Homo sapiens: one gene and its partners. The protein of the gene in region 3 interacts with the protein of the main gene of each other region in a pairwise test. Each region holds a gene or a part of one and is shown on either strand. Other genes may lie near its edges. The genes, in order: KIF5C, SHTN1, PCNT, MADD, YY1AP1, AKAP6 and DNM3.

Evidence for each region.
Region 1: the proteins of PCNT (region 3) and KIF5C interact in a two-hybrid assay, tested with the Homo sapiens proteins (one large-scale study listed by BioGRID and IntAct).
Region 2: the proteins of PCNT (region 3) and SHTN1 interact in a two-hybrid assay, tested with the Homo sapiens proteins (one large-scale study listed by BioGRID and IntAct).
Region 4: the proteins of PCNT (region 3) and MADD interact in a two-hybrid assay, tested with the Homo sapiens proteins (one large-scale study listed by BioGRID and IntAct).
Region 5: the proteins of PCNT (region 3) and YY1AP1 interact in a two-hybrid assay, tested with the Homo sapiens proteins (one large-scale study listed by BioGRID and IntAct).
Region 6: the proteins of PCNT (region 3) and AKAP6 interact in a two-hybrid assay, tested with the Homo sapiens proteins (one large-scale study listed by BioGRID and IntAct).
Region 7: the proteins of PCNT (region 3) and DNM3 interact in a two-hybrid assay, tested with the Homo sapiens proteins (one large-scale study listed by BioGRID and IntAct).

Annotation. Positions count from the first base shown.
Region 1 is NC_000002.12:149,021,245-149,025,323, reverse strand, and holds part of KIF5C (kinesin heavy chain), read right to left. Parts: intron 2,247-4,079; 3' UTR 1-2,246. UniProt on the Homo sapiens protein: Microtubule-associated force-producing protein that may play a role in organelle transport. Has ATPase activity. Involved in synaptic transmission. Mediates dendritic trafficking of mRNAs.
Region 2 is NC_000010.11:116,994,928-116,999,006, forward strand, and holds part of SHTN1 (shootin-1), read right to left. Parts: intron 1-4,079. UniProt on the Homo sapiens protein: Involved in the generation of internal asymmetric signals required for neuronal polarization and neurite outgrowth.
Region 3 is NC_000021.9:46,414,545-46,418,623, forward strand, and holds part of PCNT (pericentrin), read left to right. Parts: intron 1-1,524; coding exon 1,525-2,295; intron 2,296-3,659; coding exon 3,660-3,762; intron 3,763-4,079. UniProt on the Homo sapiens protein: Integral component of the filamentous matrix of the centrosome involved in the initial establishment of organized microtubule arrays in both mitosis and meiosis. Plays a role, together with DISC1, in the microtubule network formation.
Region 4 is NC_000011.10:47,286,883-47,290,961, forward strand, and holds part of MADD (MAP kinase-activating death domain protein), read left to right. Parts: intron 1-2,085; coding exon 2,086-2,145; intron 2,146-2,508; coding exon 2,509-2,611; intron 2,612-2,906; coding exon of another isoform or gene 2,907-2,984; coding exon 2,985-3,171; intron 3,172-3,266; coding exon 3,267-3,417; intron 3,418-3,727; coding exon 3,728-3,934; intron 3,935-4,079. UniProt on the Homo sapiens protein: Guanyl-nucleotide exchange factor that regulates small GTPases of the Rab family. Converts GDP-bound inactive form of RAB27A and RAB27B to the GTP-bound active forms.
Region 5 is NC_000001.11:155,667,696-155,671,774, forward strand, and holds part of YY1AP1 (YY1-associated protein 1), read right to left. Parts: intron 2,770-4,079; coding exon 2,625-2,769; intron 1,083-2,624; coding exon 932-1,082; intron 1-931. UniProt on the Homo sapiens protein: Associates with the INO80 chromatin remodeling complex, which is responsible for transcriptional regulation, DNA repair, and replication. Enhances transcription activation by YY1. Plays a role in cell cycle regulation.
Region 6 is NC_000014.9:32,331,864-32,335,942, reverse strand, and holds part of AKAP6 (A-kinase anchor protein 6), read right to left. Parts: intron 1-4,079. UniProt on the Homo sapiens protein: Binds to type II regulatory subunits of protein kinase A and anchors/targets them to the nuclear membrane or sarcoplasmic reticulum. May act as an adapter for assembling multiprotein complexes.
Region 7 is NC_000001.11:172,383,019-172,387,097, reverse strand, and holds part of DNM3 (dynamin-3), read right to left. Parts: intron 1-4,079. UniProt on the Homo sapiens protein: Microtubule-associated force-producing protein involved in producing microtubule bundles and able to bind and hydrolyze GTP. Most probably involved in vesicular trafficking processes, in particular endocytosis.

The DNA of each region.
Region 1 (4,079 bases), on a different chromosome or scaffold from region 3:
TATAAAGATTGAAGCTAGGTGAACTGACTGGCTGATCAGCAACTAGCAGAATTATCTTTAAGAGACATCAAAGCCAACTTTCTCTGTGAATAAAAGTAAAGCAAATGTTGTCAGTCCCTTGTAGAGATCAAGTAAAATGGAACTACAAGCGAATGTTTCCCTTTGAAACATGAAAGTGCCAAGCAATTCTTTAGAAGTAGAAACGGGGTACCCAGGGAAAAATCACCCTGGAAAGAATCTAAAACAATCTATTTTATGATGGATATTAACAAGAGCCAAAAACCATTACTGACCTTTGTTCAATTTCCAAACAAAAAGTAATGGAGAGTAGTGGTAATGACAATTAATAATTGGCAATCCTCTCAAACACCAATGTTTAGCTTCCCAAATCAGAAGCAAACATATCAACAAGGTTATGTGGCATATGTTATTACCTGATAAGCTTTGCAAAACCTGCCCCACAAGGACCCTTTTATCAGACCGCAAATAATGGTAGAGCAGGTATATTGGGCTGGCACTGATAACAAAATTAAAGAATGAAAAAAATTTAAACAAATGCAAAATTGCCATCTTCACAAAATAAATACTTCAATAGAATTTGTCGTCCTCTCTCTCCTTATTCCCCACCAAAAACAAAACATACATAAACAAAGTGCAACATTTAACAAATAAATTAAGTCAAAGCAGGTTTGCTTTGCTAGGGAAATTTTGTACAAGAAATGTTTGGATGTCAATGCACAGTTCTTAGCACTTTACACACATACACACACACACACACACACACACACACACACACACACACACACACTTGAGCTACCTTCGACCCACACAGTCATGAGAAAAGCCCAAAGTCTCCCCTGGCATATATTTCATTACAGTGGTGAAAGCTTCAGGGCACAGTGCCAGCTCACTCATCTTGGGCACACAACATGATAGGATAGGAGTTTCCACCGAGATTGGTTTGGTTGTCATTGACTTACCCCCAAATTTGTCAAAACAAATAGCAGCACAGTCAGTTTCCCTGAAAACTTTACTACTTGGAAATTGATCTTCTTAATAAGCACAACTGGAAGTAAGGGTTGATTCAGCTTTAGATTCATGTATTTGGATAAAGCAATAACTAAATGTAAAATATCCATCTATGTGGATTTTTTCTAATTGTGCCTAAGAAGATGAAACCTATTTGGTGCCAAAGAAAGAATTCATATAAACAGTCGCCAATTATGGGTTAAAATAATAACTTATTCATGGCAACTTACTCATACACAAGCACAAAGAACAAAATTTTGACAAGCACTTTCTCCCGAAGGCTTCCTTTTTCAACTGCTGGAATGATGTTGGATTTCTTCAGCAATACCCACTCAAGCTGAAAATGGTTAGAGAAAGCAGCCATTCCCAATGCAAGCTTCAGAACGATCAGAGAGGAAGTAGTGAGGAGAGGGGCAGCCACATTTCCACTTATCCAACTTTGCAGCATTTTCAGCACTTCTGAAAGAACGATGTTCAAACCGGGCCGGCTAAGACTAGTTGCTGCAGGTTCAAAAGCAAGCAGCTCGGAGGTGAATTTTATGACTTTTTGCATTTACACAGATGTATTTGAATGAACAAATTCTACACTGCTACTGTCAGATTGTTTTTCTGCCCCAAAGAAATTTGCTTTGCATTTTAACAGGTGCCATACTAAAAGGTATATTTTACAGATCCAAAGATGTGACCAGGATATTCAAAATGTGTCTTTGGGGTAATTTGTTTCGGAAAAGTGTTCAGAAGGAAAACTTTGAACCCTATAGCAGCACTTTTTGTTCCCTAAAAATATAAAACAATGTGTTTATTTTACAGGAAACCAGACAGTTGAGGCAGACCATGATCATCTGCCTCCACGGCACTTGGTTGTTCCCCTCTAGGGAATGGCACATTAGGGCGTACAGATGGGACAGTGCACTGCCCAGAGGAGGCTCCAGGAACCACCCAGAAACCACCCAACACCCCGGAGGCCGAGTCGGTGGTAATGGTTCTCAGTAGTAAGTGGATCTTCTGCAACCATCTCCTTCAGATTTCTCAAAAAGAGAAAAGTCCGAGCACACATCTGTACACACAGAAACTCTACACAGCTCAAAAGACCTGAAACTGGTGTACTGCAGATGGCTGGAGTAAGCAAGTATAAAAAAAAAATGGAAACTGTAGGGGGGGAAAAATAAAGGAATTGGTGATTAATGTAGTCCTTGACATGCTACGTGGAGTCATATCTGTTGAAAGAGAACCAAAGAGAGAACATAGGAATTAGAAAACACAGTAGAAATTTACTCCTCAAAAAAGTTTTGTTTAATTCTAGATGTTTAGACCAGAGCTGTCAGATACAAATATAACACAAGCCACATATTTTTTGTTTGTTTGTTTTTGAGATGGAGTTTCACTCTTGTCACCCAGGCTGGGGTGCAGTGGCGCGATATCGACTCACTGCAACCTCTGCCTCTCGGGTTCAAGTGATTCTTCTGCCTTAGCCTCCCAAGTAGCTGGGATTACAAGGGTTTGCCACCACACCCGGCTAATTTTTGTATTTTTAGTAGAGACGGTGTTTCACCATGTTGTCCAGGCTGGTCTCAAATTCCTGACCTCAGGTGATCCACCCACCTCGGCCTCCCAAAGTGCTGGGATTACAGGTATAAGCCACCGTGCCCGGCCAAGCCACATATTTAATTTTAAATTCTCTAGTGGCTACATTAAAAAGTGAAAAGAAATAGGTAAGATTAATTGTAATATATTTTATATAGCCTAAATAGTATTTCAACATGTAACTGGTATTACATGTTGAGATCGTTTACATTACAATATTACTACTGAGATTTTTTTTTTCACACAATAGTGTTTGCAATCTGGTGTATATTTTACACTTTCAGCCCATCTCAATTTGGACTTAGCCACATTTTGAGAGCTCAAAAGACACATGTGGATAGTGGCACATGAACAGCACAACCTCCGATTTCCTGATTTTGCTTTAAGTATTTAGTCCTGACAGTCTCAACATTCTCTTCCATAAGTCGGTATCTGTTGAGGCTATGGATATTCAGAGTAACATAATGCATTTTCTCATTCCTAGGGGGAAATTAAAACATTTCTCATTTGCCTGCACTTAGGATAGCAAGCAGGTGCAACAAGGCCCCTAACCCAGACTCTCTGTAGAAAGAGGTTCCCAGTTCCCAAAGGTATGCTTCGTCTCCATCGGATAATAAGATTCTCCAAAAGACCACCCCTGTCCATTTCATTCCACTTCCCACCAGAAGTTCGGCTGGTGCTGGGCGCATCTCCAGGATGAACGTCTAGACCAGCCTGAATGGCCTCTGTCAGCCTGCACCCAACATCAGTAAGCTCAACTTTCAGAAGACACTGAAAGGCTCTGTTTCCTGTCACCGGCTGGAGGCCCTAGCTCTGAGATCTTACTATAGGTTTTGTGCAGAGCTCATGGTACTCTAGGGGATGGGGACAGGGATGACAAGAGGGAGGTAGAGCCTTATCCTTAAGAAATACATGGAATTACCTGGTACTGGAAATACAACAGCCACTAAGAAAAGCCCAACTTCTCTTTTGATTAAAAAAAAAAAAAAAAAAAGCCCTCTGTAACCTGACACATTATGCATTATGCTTTCTGTTTTGCCTCTAGAAGGCTTATATCAACATTTGGTGCTCAACTGTGGTAATATCTCAGATTCCCGCTACCATGCTCTTTTTTTTCTTCACTCTTCTGATTTATATGTTATAATATTGTAAGCAACCTCACATATTTTGCATAAATCAGCAGGATGTAAGTTACATATAAATAGAAAAATTCTCAGTCTAGAAAGGGGTTATTAAAGCAGATACAAGCAAAGTGGGTGAAAAAGGGAGAAGAAATACGGAACAGAAACTGAATAGAAAAAAAAAAACAGAACAACACATTCTTTTTAAAAATACCACCTCTTGGCCAAGTGCAGTGGCTGATGCCTATAATCCCAGCACTTTGGTTTGGGAGGCCAACGCGGGTGGATCACTCGAGGTCAGGAGTTTGAAACCAGCCCAGCCAACATGGTGAAACCCCATCTCTA
Region 2 (4,079 bases), on a different chromosome or scaffold from region 3:
ATGTAATGCTAACCTTTGAGTTATTATTTGTATGAATGTTATTAATGTGTTTCAAAACTATGATATTCCTAGAAATCTAACATGCTACCTGTCATAATTCTGATTATGTTAAATTGTTATATCTCACAAACAACCAAATTTCCTTGTCAACTGCATTATTATCATAATGAACTCCCATCAGATCTTTAACCATGGCCATTTTAAGTCTTGTTGTTCACATTTATCATAACTGCTTTATTCTGATGCTCTTTCTAAAAGCTTTTTGCAAGCAATTATAATCCTAAAGTTTTGGGTCTTCAAGGAGGTATATGGGAAGAACAAAAAGAACTCTGACCTGTACAGGTCTCTGATAACTTTAAGGAAATACCAGTGGACTAGGTATGAACTCCAGAAATCTAAAGGAGAAACTGAACTCCTAAAATTGCTAACATCGAGCAAAATTAAGAATTAATTACATGGGACTAACATGATGAGGGACTGTGATTTTTAGGACTTTATTAGAAACACTACTGATTCTTTTATTTTCCAGATTTAGGAAAACATTTTCTTCTTTTGCGCTATCTATGGCTTAAGACAATTTGGTAAAGTATACTTTTGCAAATAGAATTGAAACATTTACTTTTCTTCCTTACTTGATCCCTCCAAAATTTGGAAACTATTCATGAGTATTCTTATTTTTAGGATAATATAGGCATTTGCATAAGTTCAGGAAGAATCCGTTCTTCTTTTAATAGGATACAATTGAAAATACTGGTTATATTGCCAAAGTTTGATGAGAATGTCGTATTTTCTGATATGACCAGTTTTTGGGAACTGAGGTCCCTAGAGGAACCTCAGTTTAATGGGGCCAATAAAGGCACCTTGGAAATACTGGCCTCGTACCTTGAATACATGGTTCAAATGGTTGCCTTATAGGGTAAAGAATGTCACCTTCCTGACAGGCCCAGGAACATCAGGAATCTAGGGAAGAGAGCTATCTATCTAAGACTACTATAGGCACAATCTGATGTTGAGTCCTAAGCTTGGCTTCTTAGCCTAAGGAGGCATTTTTGTAAGCCTAATCCGAGATTCCTTATGAAGAGTTCCAGCAAAGCAGATTTTAAAAGGGCTTACATAGTCAATCACTATTTTTGCTGCATTTATGTAAATAATTAGGCCAAGTATAATAGACAAAAACTTATTTTACAAATAAACTGGTCTTACTGATTCTTTTTGGTAGAAATTAGTGTGAGAGAGGAAAAATATTTTCAGAAAAATAATAGTTCAGAAACTATAGTTCACCCATTACTAGATTCTAGCCCTGTTCATTGTTTTTGAGATTTTATTAACTACCTGCAATCTGGAATGGATCCTAAATTCTTTTAGTTTTTTCTGATACCTGGCTGTGAGTCTCCAAACTAACATTTCCAATTTTTCTCCCACCCTTTGACCTGGAATCACTGAAATTAAAATTGGGCTTTTTCTGAAGCTATGCAAGCTAAAGCTGGACAACTTGATACAAACATAAGAGAAATCACCACAACAGCTTTTGTATCGACAACCTTTATGATATTTAAACTACAAACAAGGAAAATCTGTCAGATTGCAATTGCCTGCCCCACTCCAGCTGAAGACACTTTGAGCCTAAGATTTATAAATCCTCTCAACTGGCTGCTCTCCAGACTCAGAAACTAATTTATAGACTGCTCTAAACATTAACCTTGCTTTTCCTTTTTTTTCATAGAAATGTCTCTTATTAAGTATTTGTATGCTTATACATATAGAAACCTAACATTAAAGAGATCACCCATAACACCACCTCTTGAAATAAAACATGACTGTTTACCTAAACTAACCTAGTCTCAGGACTAAGAGACTGACTCAATAAGATATGAGACAATATACTTAAATCTGTTCTTTTCTGCTGGTTCCAATCTGGTTTTCTTCCCCTTTGCCAATCACTTATCTACAACCATACCTCTCCAAAGCTACCAGCCTAGCACATAATATGTGAGACTTTCTGAAAGTAAAGTTTCAAAGGGGAGAACTGAAGGAAACCAGCCTATCTCCCCAAAATATGAAAGACCTTCGAGCTAAAGATAATTAGGATGAAGGAAACTATCTGCCTTCCCTCTGTCTGCCTAAAAGCAGGACACAGAATTACAAAGACAAGAGGTCTATCTTCTCCCCATTTCCCACCTAAAAACAAGATACCCATTCTCCTTTACAACCCATATCACCTCAGAGATGGTGGCAGAGAAATCTGCGAGTAGACTTTACCCCAGGAGTTTCCCCATAAACTCACCTTCCCACATTCTCCTGCCTTTGGAAGCCTGGAACTGCTTTCCTTTGTCCTAACACTTTTCTAAATGTATAGTTCTTTGTTGAAGACAGTATGTTGAGCCACTGCTTATTTTTCTCCCTTGCGATGTGCACTGCATGCATTAATAAACTTGCTTGTTCATGTCTTTTGTTACAGGTATCTGTCCCAATTATGAACTTACAAGGTTTGAGGGACAGATTATTTTTTCTACCCTTCAATCCTTAAGGCATCTCTTGACTATGACAGTTTCTCAGACTTTACTCATTTTTATGACCTTGACAGTTGGGAGAAGTGCTGATCAGGTATTCTGCAGAACGTCTCTCAATAGGGATTTGCTGATATTTTCCTCATGAGTCGACTGGCTTTATGGGTTTTTAGGGGAAGACCACAGAGGTAAAACGCCAATTCATCACATCACACTATCATGCTATCATCATTGTTGATGTTGGCCTTGATCATCTAGCTGACATAGTGTTTGTCAGGTTTCTCCACTGTAAAGTTACTGGTTCCCCCTTTTCCATATTGTAGTCTTTGGCAGGAATTCACTATGTGCTGCCCACACTTAAGAATCAGGGAGTTAGGGCCAGGCGCGATGGCTCACGCCTGTAAACCCAGCACTTTGGGAGGCTGAGGCGGGTGGATCACGAGGTCAGGAGACCGAAACCATCCTGGCTAACACGGTGAAACACTGTCTCTACTAAAAATACATAAAATTAGTCAGGCATGGTGGCGGGCGCCTGTAGTCCCAGCTACTCGGGAGGCAGAGGCAGGAGAATGGTGTGAACCTGGGAGGCGGAGCTTGCAGTGAGCAGAGCTCATGCCTCGGCACTTCAGCCTGGGGGACAGAGCGAGACTCTGTCTCAAAAAAAAAGAATCAGGGAGTTAAGATACACCGCTTTGAGGGGGAACATCTACATAAATTATTTGGAATTGCTCTGCATGGGAGATTTGTCTTTAATCATTTATTTATATCAGTATCAACTCATGAATATTACTTCAAATTTTGAATTATAATCCAATATTCTGTTGTTCAGAGTTCCGTCTTTGGACATTGGATGTTCTTTCCATCGGCTCTTGTGTCTCTGACAGACAGTAGTTTCCCTCTTATCTACCGTTTCACTCTTCAGGGTTTCAGTTACCCATGGTCAACATGGTATGAAAATAGATGACTACAGTACCACAAGATATTTTGAGAGAGAGAGAGAGAGACCACATTCACATAACTCTTATTACAGTATATTGTTATAATTGTTCTATTTTATTATGAGTTTTTATTATCTCTTATTGTGCCTAACTTATAAATTAAACTTTATCACAGATACGTATGCACAGGAAAAAACTTGGAATATATAGGGTTTGTTATTATCCATGATTTCAGGCACCTACTGCAGGTGTTGAAACATAGCTTCCTCCATGGGTAAGCAGGGACTACAGTATCTCCATCAATGTCAGCTTATCAGTTGGTGCATTTCCTTAGTTTCCACACTACAAGATGCCCTAGGCTCATCTTGTATATTTCCTGCCCCTTTCCTAAAATTAGCCATTTCTCCTAGGAACCCTGTTCGTTTTATTCGAGAATGGCATTAGAAGCCAAGTTCTGGGCTCTAGATGTGCTCATTGATACTGGTGCATCTAGGCTCTCTCAGCTGACAGAGCAAGAAAATATATGTATATACCAACATATATATATATGTGTAACCATCCATACCTGTATTAAGCTAAACATGAGTTCACACTGATGTCTCCAACATGAATCCAGTGCCAAAAGCATTTTCTT
Region 3 (4,079 bases):
TCCTGGACATGCAGCCGCCCACCCTCCTCCTCCTGGACACGCAGCCGCCCACCCTGCTCCTCCTCCTCCTCCTGGACACACAGCCGCCCACTCTCCTCCTCCTGGACATGCAGCCACCCACCCTGCTCCTCCTCCTCCTCCTGGACACACAGCTGCCCACACTCCTCCTCCTGGACACACAGCTGCCCACCCTCCTCCTCCTGGACACGCAGCCGCCCACCCTCCTCCTGGACACACAGCCGCCCACTCTCCTCCTCCTGGACATGCAGCCGCCCACCCTGCTCCTCCTCCTCCTGGACACACAGACACCTACCCTCCTCCTGCTGGACACACAGCCACCCACCCTGCTCTTCCTCCTCCCCCTCCTCCCTGCTGTTTGCTAAATGTGCCCCAACTACTCCTCCAGGCTCTGAAACCCAGAGGCTCTAACACCAGAAGTGCTGGGCAGGTGTTTTATGGTCTCTAGGGTGGCACGGAAGCATGCTTGGTGCTGAAGCCTGCTGAGACCTGGGCTCACCCGAGCCCCTCGCAGCCCTCGTGAGTGTCCCGCACGTCGCTGGGACGTTTCTTGCATGAGTGCAGGTGCCGCCTGTTCCTGGGTCCACACTGCGTGCACCTCATTGGCGTTTAGAGCCTGAAAGATTCTTAATTCCACAGAAATCAGGGAAGGATGGGCCTAGGCCCGCAGTTCTGAGGAGACCCATGAACCTGGTTCGTGTGCTTGTCATGTGCTCTCGGGAAATACATCCTGTGTGGAGAGCCCTTCGCATCTCCTGCGGCAAACAGTCTTGGGGCCCTCATGACAGGAACGTTTCTTTGAATTTTTTTTTTTTTTTTTTTTTTTTTTTTTTGAGACAGAGTCTCGCTCTGTCGCCCAGGCTGGAGTGCAGTGGCGAGATCTTGAGATCTTGGCTCACTGCAACCTCCACCTCCTGGGTTCAAGCAATTCACTGCCTCAGCCTCCCGAGTAGCTAGGATTACAGGCACCCGCCACCATGCCTGGCTAATTTTTGTATTTTTAGTAGAGACAGGGTTTCACCATTTTGGCCAGGGTGGTCTCGAACTCCTGACCTCGTGATCCACCTGTCTCAGCCTCCCAAAATGCTAGGATTACAGGCGTGAGCCACTGCACCCGGCCCAATTTTTTGAATTCTTAAGAGAAAGCTCAGCCCTGCCTGCCAAATTCTTAGAAGTTACACACACAGAAACTCCAAATTCATCACATAAACCACAATTTTGTGTTTTCGGTGCTCAGATATAGAACCTTCCCATCCTTTTTCCCTTGTATGAAGCTTGTGTCCTCAATCACCGCAGAAATAGGTTATGACAGTTGCCTTTTAAGCAAGGAGATGTAAGCCTTGGTTCTGTTTCTCATAGAATTAAATAAACTTGAAATGTGCAGGGCTCATTGTGGAATCACCCGAGTGCTCCGAAACTCCCTGAAATCCACTCATTAACACCAGACAGGTGCGACTCCTGGTGAGCCAGGTATTCCACCGTGCACCTGTTCTGTTTCACCTGCAGGGTAAAGAAAAAGTACTGGAAGATTGTCAGCTGCCGAAGGTCGATCTCGTAGCTCAGGTGAAACAGCTTCAGGAAAAACTGAACCGTTTGCTGTATTCCATGACCTTCCAGAATGTGGATGCTGCCGACACCAAATCTCTGTGGCCCATGGCCTCAGCACACCTGTTGGAGAGCAGCTGGAGTGATGATTCCTGTGACGGAGAAGAGCCTGACATATCACCCCACATAGACACATGTGATGCCAATACAGCCACGGGGGGTGTAACTGATGTTATCAAAAATCAGGCCATAGACGCGTGTGATGCCAATACAACCCCAGGGGGTGTAACTGATGTTATCAAAAATTGGGATTCCTTGATACCAGATGAAATGCCAGATTCTCCCATTCAAGAAAAATCAGAATGTCAGGACATGTCTCTTTCTTCACCGACCAGCGTACTTGGTGGCTCCCGCCACCAGAGCCACACTGCAGAGGCTGGGCCCCGGAAGAGCCCGGTCGGGATGCTGGACCTGTCTTCCTGGAGCTCCCCTGAGGTCCTCAGGAAGGACTGGACCCTGGAGCCCTGGCCCAGCCTCCCCGTGACACCCCACTCAGGAGCCCTGAGCCTGTGCAGTGCCGACACATCCCTGGGGGACAGGGCGGACACCTCGCTGCCACAGACCCAGGGGCCGGGGCTGCTTTGTTCCCCAGGCGTGTCTGCAGCAGCGCTGGCACTGCAGTGGGCCGAGTCTCCGCCGGCTGACGACCACCATGTGCAGAGGACGGCTGTGGTAGGTGCCTGCTCTGCTCCCAGGCCTGCTGTTCCCGTGGGAATGTGGTCTGCCCGGCGCCACGGCAGCTGCCATTGTTTGTTCACCTCCTGACAGCACACACCTCGCAGTGCTGTGTGGGGCCAGCTCTGCAGGACTGGCATCATGGGCGCATTTAGATTATTTCAGTTGTTCAGGTATTTTTAAAATGCCTGAGATGCATTTGCCTGCCTCAGACATACCCTGGGCATGCTTCTCCACTGACGCTGACTCCAACGGGCATAGCCCAGACACGTCTTCGTGTGTGATGGGCATAGGGTTCTTTGTCCAGAATGGTTTTTTAGATTTATTTTTAGGAATGCTTCCTTTTTTTTTTTTTTTTTTTTTTTTTGTGAGATGGAGTCTCGCTCTGTCACCCAGGCTAGAGTGCAGTGACGCAATCTCGGCTCACTGCAGCCTCCGCCTCCCCAGGTTCAAGCAAATCTCCTGCCTCAGCCTCCCTAGTAGCTGGGACTACAGGCACACGCCACCACACCCGGCTAATTTTTGTAGTTTAGTAGAGACGGGGTTTTACCTTATTGGTCAGGCTGGTCTCGAACTCCTGACCTCATGATCCACCCACCTCAGCCTCCCAAAGTGCTGGGCTTACAGGCGTGAGCCACCATGCTCAGCCAGAAATGCTTCATATTTTTAACAGGTTTCACATATGCTAATTAATTTTAATTTATGAGTTAGATCGTATTATTTCTAACATAATCATTTTGGGATTTTGTGTATCTTGAGTAAGATAAAATTAAAAATCAGGTATGGTTGGGCTCATGCTTGTAGTCTCAGCACTTTGGGAGGCTGAGGCGGGAGGATTGCTTGAGCCCAGGAATTTGAGACCAGGCTGGGTAACACGGTGAGACCCTGTCTCTACAAAAAAAACACAAAAAATTAGCTGGGCGTGCTGGTGCCGCCCATGGTCCCTGCTCTTCAGGAGGCTGAGGCAGGAGGATCACTTGACCTTGGGAGGTTGAGGATGCAGTGAGCCAAGATTGAACCACTGCACTCCAGCCTGGGTGACAGAGTGAGACCCTCCCTCAAAAAATAATAATTTAGCAGATACATATTATCTGAAACATCCATATACTATCATTTCATGCAAAACAATTTAAATCTGAAATATTTACTATTGGCTACATTAAAATATTCCTAAAGAGCTGTGGGTGAATCTGATTAAATTGTTGGAAGCATTCGACCTGTGTGTTCACCAGTTTTGAGTTGTTTCATCTGGGGTCTATGTGGGAAGATAAATTCAGGCCTTTGAAAGTTTTCACCTGGCAAAGTCAGCGCTATGATGTAATTACTCATTATTTTATGACCATTTAAAAATCTCTTAACAGGAGAAAGATGTCGAAGATTTTATCACAACATCCTTTGATTCTCAAGAAACATTAAGTTCACCTCCTCCTGGATTAGAAGGAAAAGCTGATAGAAGTGAGAAAAGTGAGTTGGTTATCTTTCATTTTTAATTTTTTATTTCAGTGGTTTCCTAGCACAGAATAGTCAAAAGAATTCCTGCATCCTTTGCCTGGTTCTGCGTCTGCCCCCCGCTGACCTCCACCCCGGCTCTGCGCTTTGTCGGGCGTGCACCTGGGGCCTCTTGACTTCTGAAAACACGCCTGTACCTTTCACAGAGCCAAGGTTGCTGGCCCGGGCCACGCTCCACCCTGGAATGTTCACCCTGATCCAAGGCTGGCATCTCAGCTACAGCTACAGACCTTGCTCAGATTCACCCATTGTCCCAGTAGTGTCCTTTATGG
Region 4 (4,079 bases), on a different chromosome or scaffold from region 3:
AAGGAGCTGGCCCACCAGAGAATGGTTATGGAGAGCCTGGCAGCGTTCATAGAGCACAGCCTCTCACCTCTCACGCACTCATAAGCCTGTCAACCCAGGGCTTAATGAGTGCGCCAGGTAGTATTGGTTAGTTTCTAGGGGCAGTTAAAACCTTATGTGAAAGCCAGGCGCGGTGGCTCACGCCTGTAATCCCAGCACTTTGGGAGGCCGAGGCGGGTGGATCACGAGGTCAGGAGTTCGAGACCAGACTGACCAACATGGCGAAACGCCGTCTCTGCTAAAAATACAAAAGTTAGCCATCTGGTGTCACGCACCTGTAATCCCAGCTACTTGGGAGGCTGAGGCAGGAGAATCGCTTGAATCCAGGAGGCGGAGGTTGCAGTGAGCCGAGGTCGCGCCACTGCACTCCAGCCTGGGTGACAGAGCAAGACTCCGTCTTAAAAAAACAAAAAACAAAAAACGAAACCTTATTTGAATTGGTTTGTGCTATCTGACAGTTTCAGGGGCTTTTCTGAATTTGATTTTTTATTTTTTTTATTTTCTGAGACAGTGTCACTCCGTCACCCAGGCTGGATGGAGTGCAAGGTGGTGATCTTGGCTCACTGTAACTGCCGCCATCCAGGCTCAAGTGATTCACATGCTTCAGCCTCCCGTGTAGTTGGAATTATAGGCACATACCACCTCGCCTGGCTAATTGTTGTATTTTTAGTAGAGACGGGGTTTCACCATGTTGGCCAGGCTGGTCTTGAACTCCTGACCTTGAGTGATCTGCCCACCTTGGCCTCCCAAAGTGCCAGGATTACAGGTGTGAGCCACTGCACCTGGCCTGATTTTTTTGTTTTCTCTGGATGGTATGACGAAATATTTAACTGTGGTAGGAAGTGCAGTGAGAAACATGTATTTTTTTTTTTTTTTTTTTTTTTTTGAGACAAGAGTCTCGCTCTGTTGCCCAGGCTGGAGTGCAGTGGTGCAATCTTGCCTCACTGCAAGCTCCGCCTCCCGGGTTCACACCATTCTGCCTCAGCCTCCTGAGCAGCCGGGACTATAGGAGCCTGCCACCACGCCTGCCTAATTTTTTGTATTTTTAGTAGAGACAAGGTTTCACCGTGTTAGCCAGGATGGTCTCGATCTCCTGACCTTGTGATCTACCCGCCTTGGCCTCCCAAAGGGTTGGGATTACAGGCGTGAGCCACCGCACCTGGCCAACCTCATGTATTCTTTAACTGACCTCTCATTCCTAGTGGTAAAAAATGTCAGGTTACTTGGGTGCAGTAGCTCACACCTGTCATCCTAGCTACTTGTTAGGCAGAGGCAGGAGGTTCATTTGAGCCCAGGAGTTTGAGGTACAGTGAGCTATAATTAGGCCAGTGCACTCCAGCCTGGACGACAGAGTGAAACCCTGTCTCTAAAAGAAGCCAACAGAAACAAACAAAGTTGTCAGGAGTCTAAGACATGTTCTTAGGTGAGGATGGGAACATTGGATAAATGGGCAAAAGGACATCAGAGCTGGCAGTGAAAGGAGCGAACTAGCACTGCCAGGGAATCCACATGTGGCCGGGTAGGCTAAGGATGGAAGGGTGTCAGTGTCACTGGCCTTCATTTGGTACATTTGAAGAGAAGAGCGATTGAAACTCTTTCATTGCATGCTGATGCTTTGTCGCATTTGCTGCACTTACCCTCTCACCCATCTCCCATCCTCATACCCTGACCCCACTCCCCACAACAGCATCTGCAAGATGGGTTGCTTCCCTGCACATACCCTCAGGCCCCTGGCCCTCTGTGCTGGATGTTTTCTGAAAACCAGCGGTCCCTGTTTCATGCATGTGTGTGTTCAGTACCTGAAGGCTCCCTGTGTCATTTACCCGCCCCTGGCTTGAGAGGCCAGTTTTAAGGGTGGTCTTTTCTTAGAGCCTTGGTTGTCTCCTGGTCACTTGGCTTCCAGCTCTGAGGTGCCCAAGAACCAAGGTTATGTGCATTCCTCAAGCTTTGGGAGAATGCTCAGATTATCTGGCTTACTGCTCCTCGGAGGGGTAGAGGGGTTGCGGTATTGTGGTACACCTACTAATTGTGTATTTTGTGTCCCAGTATTTGGGCTAAATACTCTAATGGAGATTGTTACTGAAGCCGGCCCCGGGAGTGGTGAAGGTGGGTCTTGCCTGTGAGCTGTGCATGATCTTTTTTTTTTCTCTAGCATCTTCTGTGCCTGCCCGAGGGCCATCCTTCTCATGGAGCAAGCAGCGTCACATGAGTGACCTGCTTGCCCCGTCCCCCGTGACGCCCATGCTTGCCCATGGGGCTTGCTGCTGGTGCATGTGGAGTGGCCTGAGTCTCCATCCCCACCTCCTCCACATTGCCATGGCTGGTTTCTACCTACGTATGATGCCTTGGTGCTACCCTCACCCAGCCCTTCTGAGGAACGGGCATGGAACATGGCTACTTAGGGCTGTGCTGGCATGAGCTCCTGTACTACAATAGTGATGTCTCTCATTCCTGCCTTCCCTGCCACAGGAAACAGGAGGGCGTTAGTGGATCAGAAGTCATCTGTCATTAAACACAGCCCAACAGTGAAAAGAGAACCTCCATCACCCCAGGGTCGATCCAGCAATTCTAGGTAATAAATGGTAGAGCTGTTTTAAAAGTTCTCAGGCAGAGGTGGGGTGGTTCCTCTACAGAACTTTAGGGATGCTCAAGAGTGGGAGAGAAGCTCTCAATGGGGTAGATGTAATCAATTTCTTGCCAGCACTTCTCATTCTGGCTTGATCTCCATGCAACTGAAAGCTTACAGTGTTGAGGGGGGTTAATCAGCAGCGGTGGGTATTTGGACAAATCGCGTGCTCCAGAGAGGTGGGGATGTGGTGCACTTGGACATTCAGAGACATGGCTTTGTGTTTTACCCCTGGAGGCAGACATCTAGTCTGGGTGAAAGGTGGGGGGTGCTCTGCAAAGGAGCTGATGACCACAGAAGCGGTGTGTGGACCCTGTAGTGAGAACCAGCAGTTCCTGAAGGAGGTGGTGCACAGCGTGCTGGACGGCCAGGGAGTTGGCTGGCTCAACATGAAAAAGGTGCGCCGGCTGCTGGAGAGCGAGCAGCTGCGAGTCTTTGTCCTGAGCAAGCTGAACCGCATGGTGCAGTCAGAGGACGATGCCCGGCAGGACATCATCCCGGATGTGGTCAGTGTTGGGGGTAGGGAATCGGAGTAACTGGAGAGAGGGATGTGAACACCACAGGCAATTTGCCAACGCTAGCCCCTGGGTTATTGTTGCAGGAGATCAGTCGGAAGGTGTACAAGGGAATGTTAGACCTCCTCAAGTGTACAGTCCTCAGCTTGGAGCAGTCCTATGCCCACGCGGGTCTGGGTGGCATGGCCAGCATCTTTGGGCTTTTGGAGATTGCCCAGACCCACTACTATAGTAAAGGTAGGGATCGTACTTGCTGGGCACCACGCCATCCCTAACTCTGCCACTTGTCTCCTGAAGAGAAAATATATGTGTACCCAGGACACGTTTCCCAGTGCCACGCTGCTTCCCATTAGGCTTTGGGATTTTATTTTCTAATGCATGTTTATACGCAGTGGGTATTCTTTGTTACGAAAAATAAGACATCAGCTCATCTTTCCTTGAACTTCTTCCATTCCGCACCCTCCTGTATCCTGGCTCCTCCCACCTCATATCTGCGCCTTGATTCCTACTCACTACTTCTCTTGACCTCTTGATATTTTTCCCTCAGAACCAGACAAGCGGAAGAGAAGTCCAACAGAAAGTGTAAATACCCCAGTTGGCAAGGATCCTGGCCTAGCTGGGCGGGGGGACCCAAAGGCTATGGCACAACTGAGAGTTCCACAACTGGGACCTCGGGCACCAAGTGCCACAGGAAAGGGTCCTAAGGAACTGGACACCAGAAGTTTAAAGGAAGAAAATTTTATAGCATCTATTGGTACGTATCAGTGTGTTTGGTGTGGTGGAGGGGTCCTGGCTTCTTAAATATCCCTTTCTCCTCAATTCATCCAGAATCCTGCCTTTCTCTGCCCCATGCTTTGCTTCTTAGAGAGGGAAGGGGGCCTGTGTCCATTTCTGGTGGT
Region 5 (4,079 bases), on a different chromosome or scaffold from region 3:
CCTGTAATCCCAGCTACAAGGGAGGCTGAGGCAGGAGAATCACTTGAACCCAGGAGGCAGAGGTTGCAGTCAGCCAAGATCGCACCATTGCACTCCAGCCTGGGGGTCAAGAGCGAGACTCCATCTCAATCAATCAATCAATAAGTAAAAAGAGTTGAGAAAAAGTATATAGGCTGGGCCTGGGCGACAAGAGCGAAACTCCATCTCAATACATACATACATACATACATACATACATACAGACACAGACACACACAAACACACACACACACACACACACACATACATGCATACATACAAACACAAAATTGAGAAAAAGTATATAGGCTGGGCACGGTGGCTTATGCCTGCAATCCTAGCCTCTGGGAAGCCAAAACTGGTGGATCACTTGAGGTCAGAAGTTCAAGACCAGCCTGGCCAACATGGTGAAACCCGTATCTACTAAAAATACAAAAAATTAGCTGAGCGTGGTGGGCACGCCTGTAATCTCAGCTATTTGGGAGGCTGAGGCAGGAGAATCACTTGAACCCGGGAGGCGGAAGCTGCAGTGAGCCAAGATCATGCCACTATACTCCTGCACTCCAGCCTGGGTGACAGTGCAAGATTATGTCTGACCAAAAAAACAAAACAAAACAAAAACCCAAAGCATGTAAGTGGAATACTGCATATCATTTCTAGAAAGTTCAAGAAAGAGAATTATTACAGGGAAACATGGATTTGTGGAATCTTTTAAGAGGATGAAGATACTCCAGAGGAACGTAATGAATGAATCAATGTCCCTGAAAAGGCAACAGGGGAATTAATCTAGTATATAAGTAGGAGAAATTAGCTTTAGATAAAAGAAGGTTCTTCTTTTCTTTGAGAATAACAAGAGAAAAGAACAGATATGTGTTGGTGAGGTGCCTGGATAGTGCATGCAGGAAACACTCACTTTAATGATGTTGTCAGGAGCTCTGTTCATGTTGAGGTTCTTGATTCTCACTGTCAGTTGGCGGGCAGTCTTGCAGGTTAGAAGGTACTTGCTGATTAGAGGGTTAAGAAACTCAGTCCCTTCAAAATGCTTCAGTCCTAAAGCTAACAAACTGAGAAAGGAGCAATAACACTAAATCTCACTTCACAGTCCTTCCTTCTAAAGGGCCTCCCCAGACTAACACATTTTACAATCTACTTTTTCTTACTTGTTCTTAAAACAAGGTCTCACTCTGTCACCTGGGCTGGAGTGCAGTGGCGTGATCGCAGCCCACTGCAGCTGCTACTTCCTAAGCTGAAGCGATTCTCCAGTCTCAGCCTCCCAAAGTGCTGAGATTACAGGCATGAGCCCATGGCGTGTGGCCCAATCTACTTTTTCATTTTTTTCAGACAGGGTTTTGCTCTGTTGTCCAGGCTGGAGAGCAGTGGCATGATTACAGTGCACTGCAGTCTTGAATGCCTGGGTTCAATCGATTCCCGCACTTCAGCCTCCTGAGTATCTGTGGCTATAAACGTTTGCTACCATGCCTAACTAATGTTTTATTTCATTATTTGTAGAGACCAGTTCTCACTTTGTTGCCTAGGCTGATCTTGAACTTCTGGCCTCAAGTGATCCTCCTGCCTCGGCCTCCCAAAGTGTCGTCATTACAGGTGTGAGCCACCATGGCTGGCCAATCTACTTTTTCTACAACTAATTCTTGTAGTGACTACTACAAGTTGGTGACTACTCAGTAGAAAATTTCAGGTATTTAGTGAGTAGTGATTAAGTACTATGAATAAGAATCAAATAGTTCACAATTAAGTAGGAGCAAGAGAAACTAGTCATAAATCATCAATAAATGTCAGATCATGATGAGCTGTATATTAACAACACAAAGGAAGTTCAAAGAGAATACATGGGAAGGAGAATGATTCTAATAAAACAAATATAAAATGAATAATAGGTACCCCGTCAGACAAATTAAACTGGCACCAATACTACCCTCTAACATAACATATATAATCATGGTTACATATATACATATTTGCTGTTAACAGTGTGGCAATACACACAAAGGGCCATAAAAATGTTCATAATCTAGCTGGGTGTGGTGGCTTATGCCTATAGTCCCAGCACTTTGGGAGGCCAGGAGTGGGAGGATCATTTGAGGTCAGGAATTCAAGAGCAGCCTGGGCAACACAGAGATACCCTCACCTGTACAAAAAAAATCAGCCATGTATGGTGGCACACGCTTGTGGTCCCAGCTACTCCATGGAGGCTGAGGCAGGAGGATCACTTGATCCCAGGAGTTCAAGGCTGCAGTGAGCTGTGATTGCAACACTGTACTCCAGCCTGGGTGACAGAGTAAGATCCTGTCTCTAAATAAATAATAACATTAGAAAAGCCAACCTCCTGCCTTGGCCTTTCAAAGTGCTGGGATTACAGGTGGGAGCCGCCATGTCCAGTCTAAAACATTTTAAAAATGTGTGTAACATCCCCCCAAAAAGCAGTATTTGGCACTGCTAGAACAAGCACGTTCTAGAGGACTCTGCTCATCTATACTGCTTTTCCTTTTGTGTCCATGTCTTATTATACAAGTCTTACTTCCCCTAAACTCCTCAAAGGAACTACATCTTCTCCTTGGGATATTTGATCCCCCAGAGTAAACACTTACTTGTCCTCAGCCTTGGTGAAGAGGATCTTATCCTGGGGATTCTTTGCCTTCAGGGAACACACTGGAAGTAACTCTGGATACATGAAAACCTTGCTTGTGGCCAGGATCCAAGCCACTTGCTTTGGCAAACAGGGAAATTCATTGGCTATAAGAAAATAAATCTCTGATAAATCAACTTCTAGGAAAAAAGAGGGCTTCAAAAAGCCTGTGAATGCATTTTTGCATTTAGGTAGAGCTGTCCTTATCTAACTTGATTCCCTCCCATCTGCCTACCACTCCCCAAAGAGTTTCCACAGTCTTTCCTCAACTAACATTAGGTCTAAAGGGAGTCCCATTCACTGGCAATAAAAGTTGACTTTTTTTTTTTTTTTTTTTAGACGGAGTCTGGCTCTGTCGCCCAGACTGGAGTGCGTGGCGCAATCTTGGCTCACTGCAAGCTCCGCCTCCCGGGTTCAGGCCATTCTCCTGCCTCAGCCTCCTGAGTAGCTGGGACTACAGGCGCCTGCCACCACGCCTGGCTGATTTTTTGTATTTTTAGTAGAGACGGGGTTTCACTGTAGACAGGATGGTCTTGATCTCCTGACCTTGTCATCCGACAGCCTCGGCCTCCTAAAGTGTTGGATTACAGGCGTAAGCCACGGCGCCCGGCCTCTCTTACTCTTTCTTACGTGTAACACTTTATTCACAAAGTAAAACAAACACTTAAAAAGTACCTAGTAATACCTGTCACATAGTGTATGCTCAAAAATGTTTTACCTCCTTTCCCCTTTAAATCTCTGAAGGATAACAGACCTTCAACAATGCTTTTTTCTTCCAGGATAAGATTCCAGGCCAGGCGTGCTGGCTCACGCCTGTAATCCCAGCACTTTGGGAGGCCGAGGCAGGTGGATCACCTGAGGTCAGGAGTTCAAGACCAGCCTGGCCAACATAGTGAAACCCCATCTCTACCAAAAATGTAAAAATTAGCCAGGCATGGTGGCACGCACCTGTAATTCCAGCTACTTGGGAGGCTGAGGCAGGAGAATTGTTTGAACCTGGGAGGCGGAGGTTGCAGTGAGCCGAGATCACCCCACTGCACTCCAGCCTAGGTGACAGAGCGAGACTCCATCTTAAAAAAAAAAAAAAGAAAAAAGATTCCAACTTCTTTAATCTCCCTCACAAACCTGGTATTCCAAATTTTACTTTTATTTCATTCTTTCTTAACTTTCATTAAGTTCTCCCAGATTCCTCCTGAGGTTGGGAACAAAAGAACCATAAAAGGAATGAGACAATTCAGTCTCATTCATTTCTGTCTCCCTCTCTCAGCCTCTCAATTTTAGGCACCTCTGCATTTCTAGAGACAAAACTACTATATCCATATTTCTCCTTCCATAAGTGTCATTTTTATATCTCCAGAAGAAAAACACAGGACACTAGATGTGTAAGATAATACTATAATTTGGTATTAAATCACGT
Region 6 (4,079 bases), on a different chromosome or scaffold from region 3:
AAAAAAAAAAATGAACTTTTCCTGTAGTAATATAACCTCGAATTATAGGCCCTCTGGCCTCCTGGAGAGAGAGAATTAAAAAAAAAAAAAAAAAAAAAAAGGAGAAAAGGATAGTATTAAAAAAAAAAATACCCAGACAGCATAAATATGTTGTGTAATTTAAATGAGAGTTAAACAAAGCAGGTGATAAAAGTAATCAAGTAGTAAACAAAGGGCAAGAGAATTAATATAAACATTGAACCAACAGGATGGTTAATTAGCTTGCTTTGCAAAGAAGATTTGATTTCTCCCCTGAAAGCAATGGTGGTGACAAATAAACCTCACCTACCAAATATCTTCAAGTATAATGTAATATATCCCCCATTGCCTATAAAAGAAATGCCACTGAGTTCCTTTGCATGCCACTGAATTACCATCTACAAGGGCCTTGCTCTGGGTTGTTTTGACAATGGTCCCTTAGTTTTTCTAAGCACTACAATTTCTATTTGAATTGTTCCAGAGTAGGAGGAAGTGGGGAGTCTGAAACTCAAACATCTACAGGGCTCAGGCAGTATCAGTGGGGGCACCAAAAGGGCCATATGGGACTGGCTACATAAGGTCCACTGTAAAATAAAAATGTGGAGCCTCTTATTAAAAAATTATTAAGAATTCCAAGATGGTTACAGCAGAGTATTAAACTAAGTGTGGGCCCTTCTCAGTGCAGGGCCCTATGCAACTACACAGGTTGCACACCCATAAAGCCTGCCCAGCAGCCATACAAAACAAGCTGCAGGCTAGGTTTAGCTCATGTATTAGCCAGTTTGAGACCCCATTCTAAAGGCTCTACTAGCCAGGTGGGGTGATGTGCACCTGCAGTCCTAACCACTTGGGAGGCTGAAGTGGGAGGATCGTTTGAGCCTAGAATTTCAAGGCTGCAGGGAGTAATGATTGCACTACTGCAATCTAGCCTGAACAACAGAGTAAAACCCTGTCTCCAAAAAAAAATCTGAAAATAAAATAAAGGTTCCACATTCTCTCCCTACTTACCCTTGTGACTCAAAGCACACCACTGCAAGATGGCTGGAAGAGTTTGGAGCATGCCCCATGGCTGAAGAACAGAGAAAAATATGGCTGGTGGCTTATGAGGAAAACAAAGTCTGTCCTTTATCTTCACCAAATCTTAAAGCCAACTCAGGAATTCAATTACTGACCGGTATGTGCTCGTGGAGAAGAAACTGTATGCCTTATTAATTCAAACTGCAATAGTCCCCCTCATTATCAGGGAATATGTTCCAAGACCCCCAGTGGATGCCTGAAACCATGGATAGCACCAAACCCTACATATACTATGTTTTTTCCTATACATATATACCTGTGATAAAGTTTAATTTATAGATTAGACACAATAAGAGATTAACAATAACTAATAATAAAACAGAACAATTGTAACAATATGCCAGCATCACTAATCTTGAGCTTTGGAGTCATTATTAAGTAAAATAAAGGTTATTTGAACATGGGCATTATGATAGCGAGATAGTTGATCTGAAAACCAAGACGGCTATTAAGTGACTTAACAAGCTGGTAGCATATACAGCATGGATATGCTGGACAAAGGAATGATACACATCCCAGGCAGGACAGAACAGTAATGGTGAGAGATTTCACTGCACTATGCAGAACAGCGCATAATTTAAAACTTATTGTTTATTTCTGCAATCTTCCATTGAATGTTTTCAGACCACGGATAACCATAACCACAAAAGGCTAAATCACAAATAAGGGCGCGGAAGGGGCTACTGTACCTAAAACTCTGTTGCCATGGCCAAAGTCCTATATGGATTGCTATTCCTCTGAAAAACCACACTCAGGGCCCATCTACAGAGTTCAGTCAATATGATTGTTTCGAGAAATGCTTCCCATTTAAAGCAATACTGTAAGGCACACTAGGGCGATTAGATGAGACTGAAGGTAACTGGTATACCTGTCCTTGTACAACTAAGTGTGTAGTTGGTACCTTGTATGATACATACCTCCATCAGCAGGCTGGCTGGAATGCTCAATTTAGAGGGCTCTCTGGACAATTTTTAAAGGTGATGAATATCTTTTATAAAAACAAAAATATCTCTCCTTAACTGATCTGCCACACACATTTCATATTTCCATATGTCAAGTTTGTCAACTGAGATAGACATGCACTATTTGACTGATTATAATTTTATTTCTCAAAATAGTTTATACCAAAAAAATACTAATTGCCATATTGGTCTTGTCCACATCCAGAAAGATTCTAATCCAAACCCATGCAAGAAAAAAAAAAGTTATTATTTAATGCAGTAAGTTTACCTCCACATATAAACCATATAGCTATATGTACCTATACAAATGTGCACAGATAATGGGCTTCTCTAATAACACATGGAATAAAAAGTAAATAGAAATAGTATTGCAGTATTAGAGGAAATAAATTATTTTACCAATTTACCCATTTTTCCCTTCCCCTCTAGAATGTAGCTGGGGAAGAGATTTGCATCTGTCTTGCTCATTGCTATAGATTCCCTGACAATGCCTGGCATATAGGAGATATTCAATAAATATTTATTGAATTGAATTGAATCCATGCGATCAAAACAAACTGCCATTCATGGGTTCTAGGATTATAAATAGAAGAAAATCAGAGACATGTAGCAAGACCACCAACTTCCCTAAATTCCACTGGCTATTTTATTTCCTAATTGGAACCTAACTCCTGTAGTCATTGTACCTAGCAGCTTTGATGCTTTCTGATCAGCCTCTCATTCCTGTACCTCATGCAGACACAAGCTTGGGCCTCTTTGGAGCAGGTTAGGACAAAGGTTAACTTCTTCCTGGAACCTAGAAAAGGCTAATGAGCCCTGTGGAATAATATTTCTAAGTATTCACCATACAGGAATCAATATCAACATGCTGTCAGTGTGTGCATTAGCCCCACACTCAAACAAAGAACAGCCCTTAGAGCCCAATAATGACGCTGGGCGTGGATAGCTGGGGATGAGCAAGATGATACAGAAATGACTATATCAGCTCTCCTCAAACACAAGGCTTCCAGGTTATTACACAAGACTGTCATTCTTGTACTTTGTCAGAGATAGACAGAGTTTGGTTTCAGCCACTGATACATTCAGCAAAATAAATCCTCTATCTTCTTAACCTAAGAGATAGATTCAGATTACACTTTCCAGACTGTGAGAGAAGTTTCTGCTTCTGTTCTCAACACCAGGTTGAGAACAGAACCTGGTGCAACAGCAGGGAATACAAACATCTTAAAGTTAACAAAGCACCACAAATATAGCTGATAAGACAGGTTTATAACAAAGCTGAATCATTACTGACTCAGGTAAGACCTGCTTTGAGTGCAACTCCATCATGCCCACAATTATTGATGTAACATTTTCCATACAGAGATCCTGCTAGAAAGTTATATCAAGCAAGGGCAGTGGCAAAAGTCTAAGCATCAACTCTTCATTACTTAAATCTCTGGGTACAAAGTAAATATTCACATCTGATCAAGATTCATGCTCATCCTTACAGTGAAATCAACCTTAGTGTTGCAAATGACATTTCATTCTACATATGAAATCTGATTTTCCAATTAGAATGAGGAGGGGTGGGGTACGTGTGATAGAGTATAGATGACTGATCTGTATGGTATATACAGTAAAGATGTCATAAAACTGAGATGGCCGTGGGTAAGCATGTGTGCTGCATAGCCAGATCGCAATGGTTTGGAATCCTGGCCCAATCACTTATTAACTACATAACCTTAGCCAAGTTTATTCGCCTGGCTAAGGACTGGTTTTTGCAAAATGTGAATAATAACACCTAATCCTATAAAGTGAGATTATTACTCTCTACTTCATAATAATAATAAGGGCTAAATAAGATATACACAAAACTTAATTCAGTACTGATACACAGTAAGAACTGAATAAATGATAGCTATGATTGTTATTATGATTATTATTTTTATCATCCCTATGCGGCCTAGTTATCGGCAAAGAATTAACTTCTTTGTAACTTTGTAATGTATTTGTGAAAGCCATGACCAAAAGTATAGAGGA
Region 7 (4,079 bases), on a different chromosome or scaffold from region 3:
AAATGAGTGACTGAGTGGAGGTAGAAACATGGCTGTGGCAGTCAGAGTCTGGACAAAGTCCACCAAAGTCCACCAAAGTCCACCCTGGGAAAAGTGAAGCACCAAGCGTCTGTTTACTTTTGTTTTGTCTCTATCCCCAGTACTGGTGACAGTAACAGTTTCCCTCTGTCTTTTGGCTGTCCACACTGAAGGATGATAGAGATGAGTAGAAGAAGGCCAAACCCAGCCATCACCAGAACAGGGCCTGCTGGCTTTGTGAGCATTTCACAATATTGTCTGGAGCTGTTTGGCTTATAGAAGAGGGAAGGTACTATGAGGTAAGAAGCAGTATTTTCAACAGAAAACAGTGATGTGAAGAAACCTATGTAATCACACGTTTTCCATTCCTTGGCATTCGCAGTCCTTTCCCTAGCTTTTACCAAAATCACTGGAAAATTATTGAGATGCCAAGTTTCAGTGTCGTCTCAAAAGTGAAATTAGCACCAGTAAGTGAATATTTATTAAATACAGAATCTTATATAACTATGCAGGTTGATTTATAAACAAGTGAAAGAGATGCACTCTGTTTTCCAGAAGTTTACAATAGAAGTTAGTTAACAGTGATGGGGACTGACATGAGGTTGCATAGTTAGCTAATATATAAAAACAAACTAAAGTATGAACACTATGTGGGAGTCTCAGGGGGAGGGGCATTTTGTTGCAGGATGAAAATGGAGAGGATGAATATGGTGCACAACACTGAGAGTGGGAACGCCAGCTACTGTATCTCATCAACTCTAAGACACCAGTGATTTTAAGAAACACTACTATCATATGTGCTGACTATTCAGACAAAAAAAAAATACCATCAATCAAACTTTGACAGGATGTCAAGATGCCATTGAGTATAAGATGCATCTTCATTTCAGAAATATTAAATAAAAAGAAGTGAATGTGAGAATCGATGAAGTATGGTATATACCAAGTGGCTTCATAAGTTATATGACAATTCTTATCACACACTGAAGAAACATGTATTAGTATTCCAGTTTTATAGATACAGAAACAAGTTCCAAGAATTTAAGTATCTTGTGCTAGGTCACACAGCATTCAGTTGAATCCATAACCTTCTGACTTGAAGTCCGGTGCCCATTCCCTTACCCCATTATCTCACTGTGATTGAGTGCTTAAAAAAGTAAATTTTTGTTTAAGTATCATTATTTTACAGTAGTGCAGCAATTAACTTAAGCCTAGTAAAAATAAGCCGTTTGAATTTTTCAGTTTCTCTGTTACATGAGAAAGCTAACTCTTATCTAGACTCATGAATATCTTTAAGAAAGGCCAAACGCAAGTATATATTTAATTGTTAAAAAATCAGGCAGATAACAGAACAGCTGTCAGATGCTCCAAATTTCTAGGATATGGTTAAATTTGTAATTCAGAGATGACAAGAACCTAAAACACATAGCTTCATTATGTTTTAAAGGCATCAAAACATGTAAATAATTCTACTAATCAAAAAATTCAGCTAAATCAAAGGTTTATTGTGGTGAAATAAAGTGTTTTCTGTACATATTTTGTAAACCAAGAGTGATTCAAAGGTGAAAGTAATCTAATACACAAGATGTATTTAGGAAACCCTCTGTGGAGTAGAGGTTTATGCACGATAGTTGTGGAAGGTAAGTTTGGCCAGGAATCCTGAGGCAGATGCGAAGGCCTTGAATGCCAAGGAAAAGTGTTTGAACTTTATTTGCTTGGCAATGAGGGGCCAGCGAAAGCGTTTAAGCAAGTAAGTGAAACAATAAAAGAGAGTTTTAGGAAAATTAATCTGGCTAACATTGAAAAAGACTTTGCAAGGGTGGTAGTGAAAATAAAGAAATCTGTTAGAAGGCTATTGTAGATCGTTCATAAGATGGTAAATGTTTCATTTAATAACGCAGTAGTATAAAAAATGGATACATACAATGACATTATAAGGGAATAATGAACTGAACTTGGTGCTGTTGGGATGTGAAGGGCAAGGAAGAAAGGAACAACCAAAGACATCTCAAGCATTGACATTTGGATGAGTAGGAGAATAGAAACTCAAACATCAGAAAAGAAAGTCAGATTTAGAGGGAAGGCAGCAAATTTGGCTTTAGGAATATTTCATTCCCTTCCTTACAGACGCATTCACTTCTAAATGTACTTGCAGGTATGCAGGGAATCATGGATATTTGCACAAATCTCCCACTGTTGGGTATGTATATGCAGTTGGATGCATGGTGCAATTCAAAACTCAAAACCAGACAATTTTCCTGGCATTGACCATTGGTTGGGTTAAGCTCTTTAGAAACTTTACATATTACTGGAATATCACTTAGAATCTATTAAATACAATTTAAAAGAAGATTCTTCCAAGAATAGATTTAAAGCAGAGCTGAATTAAGAATCAACTGTCAAACCATGAAGCAAAATAAGGGCCTGTTTCAGCATTCTGACCAAAGATGTGCCTTGAATCTTCCACAGCAATTATGACACACTGGAACTTGCCTACTGTGCAATACAGTGGATTCAGAGCATAGGCTGTGGATTTAAGTTCTAGTTCTAACACTTACTGTTCTTGGGCAAATAATGTAAACTGTTTGAGTCTCAGGTTCCTCATCTGTGAAATGAGGGTAGAGCTACCTCAAGTATTGTGAGGATTAAAGGAAGGAATGAATACAAGTTGTCTAGCATGATGCCCAGCACACAGTTAGTGCCCCTTCCAAAAAATGCTGTGATTTTTACTGTCTATAGGCTACATTGGCATTAGGTACATCGAGACAGGAGAACAATAGACAGCTGTTGCAACAGTACAGGTATCAAGCGACATAGTTAAATAGGGCATAGAGGTTAACATTTTTTATTTTGCATTTAAGCAAAATTTTAGAGATACTCTTCTCTCCTTCTGCTAACCTAGCTTTGTGACACTAAAATTGGAGTTTGGAATGAAGGTAGGGGGACTTCCGGGAGTTTCCAGACACTTCAGGGACTTTCTGGGAAGTCTGTATGCCAGTGGTATACAGACATTTAAATCTGGTACAAATATTTAAATCAAGAATTCTGCATGACAATCAGGGGTCAAGTGAATCCCTTTTAGATGATAGCATTTAGAAAATACTTCACCTAACATAACAAAGTGATTATACTTAAATTTGAGATCTGAAATAATATTTATGTTTTTAATTATAACACCTTATAACCTATACATCTCTGTATGGTTTGTAAAAGTTCTCACACATGAAACCTCATTCCAGCTCAAACTCTCTAGGCTAGATAAACAGGCATTACTGCACCATGTCGCTCTGCTCAGTGTAAAGGAATGTGAGGTCATTAAAAATGTTCCACATGTTTTCCTCTCTTACTTTAACCCTTCTCTAGCAACCCGTAATATGTTTGGATCTTAAACCTTCTTTTCTATGACTGAGACCATTTTAAACCCTTCACAAATAGAAGAGACATTTCTAGGGTTTTCCTACAGTTTCCTACAGTTCAGTTACCAAGGAGACCATTTCCTTAAAATCTCTTTGTTTCTAGAATTGGAGGGTCACAGTACGGAACACGGTGATGCCTCTCATTCACACAATACATGTATTAAAATTCAATTGAGAAGTTTAATTTTGTTTAGTTTTGGGGAGGGGGCTTGGTTAGAATTTTGTGATCTTTGAGATCTCACAATTCTCTCACATCTGCTTAGTCCTCCTTTCCTTTTCCCAGGGATTTAATTCTGCTAAAGACCAAGGAAGTTTTCCTGCTTTAAAAAGTAACATCCTTTGACTCACAAATGTAATGTTAAGGAAAAGAAGTTAGACACAAAAGGCGTATAGTATATGATTCCCAAGTGCAAAAACAGGCAAAACTAATCTACAATTTAAGAAAGCAGAAGAGTGTTAGCCTTGGCGGGGAGCAATGATGGGAGGTGGGGGCAGGGGAGAAGAGAGTGGGACTTAGGGAGTCCTAGTCGTGATCTTTTTCTTGAGCAGTGTGCTGAATTCCTGGCTGGTGGAAACAAATCAGTGCTTTAAATGCCAGGATAAAGCTCTGGTATTTAAGATGTACTTTCCCCTAAAATAATGAAC